Linked DNA regions of Homo sapiens. The gene in region 1 interacts genetically with each later gene. Each region holds a gene or a part of one and is shown in the gene's direction. Other genes may lie near its edges.

The links.
Region 2: changes in LTC4S (region 1) and CAMK2G together harm fitness more than expected from each alone (negative genetic interaction), as found in Homo sapiens cells (one large-scale study listed by BioGRID).

What each region holds. Positions count from the first base shown.
Region 1 is NC_000005.10:179,792,480-179,796,224, forward strand, and holds the start of LTC4S (leukotriene C4 synthase), read left to right. Parts: upstream 1-1,506; 5' UTR 1,507-1,601; coding exon 1,602-1,659; intron 1,660-3,104; coding exon 3,105-3,204; intron 3,205-3,306; coding exon 3,307-3,377; intron 3,378-3,461; coding exon 3,462-3,543; intron 3,544-3,745.
Region 2 is NC_000010.11:73,847,056-73,850,700, reverse strand, and holds part of CAMK2G (calcium/calmodulin-dependent protein kinase type II subunit gamma), read left to right. Parts: intron 1-1,367; coding exon 1,368-1,440; intron 1,441-1,585; coding exon 1,586-1,688; intron 1,689-2,091; coding exon 2,092-2,175; intron 2,176-2,618; coding exon 2,619-2,713; intron 2,714-2,909; exon of another isoform or gene 2,910-3,353; coding exon 3,354-3,476; intron 3,477-3,645.

The sequences.
Region 1 (3,745 bases):
TGGGCAGAGTCTGAGGACGCGGCCACCATCGCTCCCTGGCACTACATCTGTGTCCGGGATCTAGGAGGCAGTCCTCCATCACTGAGCCCCAAGATGACTGTCACAGCTTGGTCTAAAGCAGGGGCCGGGCCTGAGCCCTGGCCCCTGCCCTGGAGGAGCTCACAGAGCCCCCAGCTGGGGCATATCTGGTTTCCGGGGGCAGGGGCGATACCCAGAGGAGGAAGAAGGGATTCTGAGAGAGCCCAACAGGCTCCGAGCCTCAGGCTGGAGCTGAGCTTGGGGCAGCAAGGAAGGACCAGGTGCGAGGGCAGAACCATGCGGCCCGACCCCTGCAGCACGGCCTGTGGCCTCCCCCAGCTCCTGCCCGTGCTTCTGGGTCAGTCTGGACTTTGCCACTTCTGACCAAAAGCCACCGCAAACCCACTCAAGCCAAAAGAGGAAGTGACCGTTAGGCCCAACTGGGAAGGCTGGCGGCCAGGGGCACTCCAGGCAGGGCGAGGGGGGCGGCCGGGGGCGCTCCAGGCGGGGCGAGGGAGACACCCAGAACTCCAGGCAGGAGTCCTCGGGTGCCACCTTTCCTCTCCACCTGGCCCTGCGTGGGCTCTGTCCTCAGGGTGGCCCGCCGTAGTCCCCCTCCCCACTCTGAGTTTCCTGTCCCAAAGTCCTAAGGAAGTTTCCAGAACTACATCTCACCATCTTGAGTCAGCCTTGGCTCAGTGTCCATCTCACAGGCCTGGAAGGGGCAGGAGTCAGCACTGTCCAGACCACAGGGCCTGAGTGTGGGGAGGGCAGCCGTCTAGGAAGGTGGTGGAGGGTTGTTACCTTGAGGCAAGAGGGCTGCGGGGCAGAAAGACACAGCAGGTGACTGTTGTGGGAGGCCCAAGAGAGGCCTGGGAGAGGGATGGCCCACAAGGGCTGACCCTCCCGCCACCCAGGGGGCCTTGGACAGGTTTCCTCCTGGCAGGGTGGCCCTTGTGCATGGAACCCCTACAACGACTAAGGCTGGCAGGCATGAGGTTTCCTGAAGGAGAAAGAGCTTGTGGGGCCCAGTGTGGCTGGGGGGGCGCTGGGACTCCATTCTGAAGCCAAAGGCACTGGGAAGGGCTTCCGCAGAGGAGGGTTTGGCAGGGGTTGCCAGGAACAGCCTGGATGGGGACAGGGAACAGATAAGGTGGGTGGAGGAGTTAGCCGGGAGCCTGGGGCTGGCTCCAGCATGATGTGGGGGTCTGCAAGGCCCTGGAGAAAGTGGGGTGGTGCAGCAGGGGGCACACCCACAGCTGGAGCTGACCCAGATGGACAGCTTGGGCTCTGCCACGCGGGACTAGGCAAGGAAGGGGCACGAACAAGCAGGAAGTGGTGAGGCGGTCTCCAGCTAGCTGCTCTCCCCTGCCCAGACTTTGGTTTCCTCCCTGCTGGCTTGGCCTGGCTCCCTGGCTCTGTGTGGTATGGTCACACCCCCGTGCACCCCCTCCACTGAGATGGGGCGGGGAGAGCACCGAGGCTGCTCTTCCTCTCCTGGGCCGTCCTCTGAGCAGCAGACGGGGCTAAGCGTTCCCCAGCTCGCCTTCACACACAGCCCGTGCCACCACACCGACGGTACCATGAAGGACGAGGTAGCTCTACTGGCTGCTGTCACCCTCCTGGGAGTCCTGCTGCAAGGTGGGCTGGTTCCTATCTAGGAAGAGGGTGGGCCTTAGATCCCTACAGCTTGCCCTCTGCCCCCTAGGCCCAGGTGGAGGGCAGAGGTGGGGACTCCAGCCCAGGCCCAAGCTGGAAGAGGGTGGGGACTTTCAGGGAACTGGGGGGCACCTGGCTGTGAGAGCTGTAGGACTTGGGGGTGGCAAGGGTGCCAGGACAAATGGTAGGATAGCCATGGGCTTGGGGAAGCTGATCTCTGCTCTTTCCAGCTGTCCCCTCTCTGGGCGTCCCAGCAAGCGGCCCCCATTCCCTGGCTCTGCTTCAAAGGCACCTCCATACTGGGACCACGTGGAGCAGGGTAGAGGTGGGACTCCTTCCTCCAGCCCCCTAAAAAGAGCCTGCTTAATGCCTTTCTCAGACTGGCCCTAAAGGACACATTCCTTGGCCAGATATCCTTGCCACCTAAGAGACACCACTACTCCACAGTGTGTGGGCTAGGATAAGGCACAGCCTGGGGAGGGGGCTCTGAAGGGGCTGAACAGACAGGCCAGCCTGACCTCCAGCTGCTCCTGCACTGAGCTGGATGGCCACCCTGTGACACCCATCTGCAGAGGGCCCAGAACCAAAGGTGCCAGGGCTGCAGGACTCAGGGGGAGATGGTCCGACGGGAGGTCTGGGGAGGGAGCGCACAGCCAGCACTGGTCTGTGTGTGGTCTGGCCTGGCCTCACCTGACCAAGAGAAGGGCTCCTGCCCACAGAGAAACTTTAGGGCCAGCCCACCCTCTGCAACTACCCCAGCCCTGGGGTCCTGGGGTTAGGCTAGGAGAGTCCCAGCTGCAACCTCCTGGGAGCAGGAGAGAAGGTGTCTGTCAGATTTAGGCCTGGGACCGGAATGCAGGAACAGAGAAACTGAGGTTTGGAGGCACAGGGACGCAGGCTTTAGTGATCCCGGCCTGAGGCAGGGTCAGAGGGCCCTGCTGGTGGGCGCTGGTAGGTGGGTGACCAGGGACTGTTAGCTACAGGGAGTGTGCTTCCTTGCACCTGGGAGGATGCAGCCAGCTCTGCCCTCAGACTCCCGAGGCACTTCCTGGCCAGGGACCTGAAAGCTGCATTTGCCTGTGTTTTGAGAGTGAAATGATTCAGAAACAAGGACTCAAGTGGTCTCTCTCGCGGAGCAGGTGTCCCTGTGCCTGAATCACTCACCCTCCCCCATACACTCACAGGTTGGGACAGGGCCTCTCTGCGCCCCAGGCTTCAGCCCTGCCCTCCTCGCTGAATGTCAGGGACACAGGGCAGGCCAGGGATGGGTGAGACGAGAGGTCTCCTCGGGCGGGGAGGGGGCGGGGTTCCGCCTTAGGGAGGAGAGGACACGGCCAAGTGAAGGGCCAGATTGCAGGATCCCTCCCACTCCCATCTCTGGGGCTTCGGGTGTCCAGACCTGACTCCCGCTCCCCCTCCTCCCCCAGCCTACTTCTCCCTGCAGGTGATCTCGGCGCGCAGGGCCTTCCGCGTGTCGCCGCCGCTCACCACCGGCCCACCCGAGTTCGAGCGCGTCTACCGAGCCCAGTGAGGCGCGGCGGGAGGGCGCGGGGCGGGGAGCGAGCCCCAGGCGGGTCCGGGTCGCAGGACCATCCCGGCCGGCGCGCTCATCCCACCCGCCCACCGCAGGGTGAACTGCAGCGAGTACTTCCCGCTGTTCCTCGCCACGCTCTGGGTCGCCGGCATCTTCTTTCATGAAGGTCGGGGTGTGGGGCAGGGGCGCACGCGCTGGACCCCCGGGACCCGCGCAGGGCGCTCACCAGGCCCGTGCGTACCTCTCGCAGGGGCGGCGGCCCTGTGCGGCCTGGTCTACCTGTTCGCGCGCCTCCGCTACTTCCAGGGCTACGCGCGCTCCGCGCAGCTCAGGTGAGGGCCGGGCGGGGAGCGGGGCGGGGCCGGGGAAAGATCGCGGGCGGGCGGGGCTCCTGGGGAGCGGGACCGAAGCTGGGGGCGGGCGACGGGCCGGAGCCCAGCGCCTTTGGGGATTCGGTGGGCGAGCCCTGGCGGCGGCCAGAGGAAGTCCCCGTGGGGCCAGGGTTGCGGCGGGGAAGAAGCGGGCCTCCTCGCG
Region 2 (3,645 bases), on another chromosome or scaffold:
CCAGCCCCATACACTGGGATGCTCTGCAGATGTGCTTAATATACCAGATAGTGCCTGATGACGGGGGTCTATATTCTAGGCCAAGTTCCTCAGCCTTGGTGCTACTAACGTTTTAGGCCAGGTACTTCCTTGTTGTGAGGCCTCTCCTGTGCATTGTGGCAGACATTTAGAAGCATCCTTGGCCTCTGCCCACCAAATGCTGGGAGCACCCCTCCTCCAGTTGTGACAACCAGAAATTTCTCTAGGCATTGCCAAATGTCCCCTGCGGTGGGGGGGGGCGGGCGGCAAATTCATTCCCAGTTGAAAACCACTGCTCTAGACTGCCCCCGCTCCCTGTCAGGAGTTTGATGACAGGGATGGCAGGATGGTTTGCTATGTGGACAGTCTGATTTACGTGTGTGACTGTGGCTGGGCGCAGTGGCTCACGCCTGTAATCCCAACACTGAGAGGCCAAGGTGGGTGGATCACTTGAGCTCAGGAGTTCAAGACCAGCCTGGGCAACATGGTGAGACCTTGTCTCCACAAAAAAATACAAAAATTAGCTGGGCACGGTGGCTCATGCTTGTGGTCCCAGCTACTGGGGAGGCTGAAGTGGGAGGATTGCTTGAGCCCAGGAGGTCAAGGCTGCGGTGAGCTGTGTTCACGACATTGCACTCTAACCCAGGCAACAGAGTGAGACCCTGTCTCAAAAATAAAATAATAAAATAACTTTGGGTTTTTTTCTCTACGCAAAATCATCAGAAGTGCTCCTTAAATGCCCTGTTTGGAAGCTCTTAAGTACATTGTTTCTTAAAGGTATCTTTGTACTTGTTTTAGCTGCCTTACTGGATGCCAGACCTCAGGGCAGCTATTGGGTCTTGTCCATCTTCATTATCCTAGGCACTCAATAAACATTTAGGGAAATGAATGAGTGCACCCACCGCCAAAGTAGCTTAGGTTGTTTAGTTGGACTCTCCTTCCTAAGTTGCCAGCACAAGCTTCTTCTCCAAGAACAAAGTTACTGTATGGAGAAAGAGAAAGAAGGAAGGGATTGGATGCTCTCTTCTTCCTCAGGATTCTGGGCTGTCTCCTGATCTCTTGGAAATGAGTTGGTTGTGTTAGACCTTTCCAGTCAAAAGGGGGTGAGAGGAACCCGTTCTAGCGGTGATCCTAGAAAAACCATTGCATCTGCCTGGGCCTCGGTTTCCTCTTTCTTTAAATAGGTTGAACAAGATGATGTGCAGAGTCTAAGGTTCCAGTGGCCGTTAAGTGATTCTCTGTGAATCCGTGGCCCCTTGTCACATGCCTTAGTCTGCAGCATGTGGTTGTGGATGTGGATGAGGTGGTTTAACCCTGCGCTAACATTTCTTTTCCTTCTGCTTTTTTAGCCACTGTATACATCAGATTCTGGAGAGTGTTAACCACATCCACCAGCATGACATCGTCCACAGGGACCTGAAGGTACTACCCAGGCTCCCCTCCGTGCCTCTGCTCATGAAGTGTTGGCGCCACCTGGTGCCAGATAGTGGTACTGCGTAGGCCCAAACTAGGCTTCCTCTGGGCTGCAGGGTGGGTGCTCACAAGGTTCTCTGTGTTTCTTCTGCAGCCTGAGAACCTGCTGCTGGCGAGTAAATGCAAGGGTGCCGCCGTCAAGCTGGCTGATTTTGGCCTAGCCATCGAAGTACAGGGAGAGCAGCAGGCTTGGTTTGGTAAGGGTGATCCTGTCTTCCCGGAATGCAGCCCCCGCCCTTCCTCCTCTTCCTGATCTGCCTTCCTCTATTAGAACTAGAAGCCAGACCCTTAATGGTCCTGGCCTCCGAGATCTCTCTTGGCCGTACGCGACTCAGTACAGTAAGTCTAGCTGTTGTCAGCACTGCTTTCTTGCTGCCTGTGGGAAGGAGCTGGAGTTCCTGGTAGGCATACGGCTTTGCCGTCTGGTTCAGATTCCAGGCGCTACAAGAAGCCCAGCCTGTCAGCTCTTGCTGCCCATGTGCTGAGAGTTTATGTAGCAAAAGCAGCAGGAATAAGATGGGACTTGGGGGAAATGGCTGGTGTGGATTTAACGAGAGAGAAAGTGGGTTCAGTATGCCTCTGCCCTCTCTTTTGCTACAGGTTTTGCTGGCACCCCAGGTTACTTGTCCCCTGAGGTCTTGAGGAAAGATCCCTATGGAAAACCTGTGGATATCTGGGCCTGCGGTAAGCCCATTCCACGCTCTCAGCTTTTCGCTGTTAAGGGCCCTCAACTTCCGATGATGGCAAGAAAGAGGCATCGCTATTCCTTGCAGGTCACACACGTGCCTGGTGTATGTGAAATTATGGTGTTTGCCCCTGGGATGGCTGTTCCCATCACACCCTCCTCCCTGCGTACTTCTGGGATGACATTGTATCCTTCTTGGAGAGGGATTTGCCCACGCCTTAGAGGATGGGTTGTGCCTAAAGAAATCCCTGGTGTGACTTGGTGACGTGAAGTGTGAGGCATAGCAGGAGGGGCTGGTAGCATAGCATTATCGGCTGGCATCCACTTCTGACTCTGGTATGGCCCCTGCCTTTCTAGGTGGCTCTGAGCCCTGCATGGTTTTTCTTGGTTCCTCAGGGAAGTAGGCGACTGACCCCCATGACCTGTGTGTTCTGTCTCGTAGGGGTCATCCTGTATATCCTCCTGGTGGGCTATCCTCCCTTCTGGGATGAGGATCAGCACAAGCTGTATCAGCAGATCAAGGCTGGAGCCTATGATGTAAGGACCAGAGAGCCGGGCAGCCAGGCCAGGAAGGGCAGATGTCCTTGCTCCTCGGGCTCTGTCCAAGGGAGCAGGCTTGTTTAGTGTGTCACGTGATACGGGGGTGTCAGGGGACTTTGAGGACCCAGGAATGGGCATCCAGGGCCCAATTCTTGCCACTCTATGTCCCAGGGAGCAACTTTCTTTTGCACAGCCTTCTTCATAACTAAAATTGAGGAGTCCACTGAAGTCCTTTGATCTTTACTTGCAAAGAATGGAGCGGCCTCATTGGTGTGCTGTGTAACACAGGGACAAAAGGCCTGGAGACTCCCTCCACTGCAGTGGCACCTTGGACACATTGCTGAGCCTCTGTTCCCTCCTAAGTATAGAGCTGGGCTTAAACCAGAGAATGTTGGAGTCCCCTTCCCGCTCTAATCTGATGTTCTGGCATTCTAAACATGACTGTTCTGTCTGTCTTTCCAAGTCTTTAAGTTGACACAGGTTCTGGAATAGCCGCAGGGCTTCTCCAACTCTGCCAGTCACAGCTTTAGGTACCACAGAGTATCCCAATTACAGGAGTTGAGTTGAAGACAGAACCAGTGTTGCAGGGTATGAAGCTCACCAATACCACATTCTTCTCCCTATTCCTGCTCCTTAGTTCCCATCACCAGAATGGGACACGGTAACTCCTGAAGCCAAGAACTTGATCAACCAGATGCTGACCATAAACCCAGCAAAGCGCATCACGGCTGACCAGGCTCTCAAGCACCCGTGGGTCTGTGTAAGTGTCTTTGCTAGTGGCCAAGGAGCTCAGGGGTGTCAGCCTTCTGTGTGCCCTCGGCACCACCCCCTCCTTCTTACCAGCAGAGATTCATTCTGGGCCCCAAGCAATAACTGAGCAGGCGGGCAGAGGACTGTTGAGGGCCAGGGTCAATAAATGTCACCAGGGA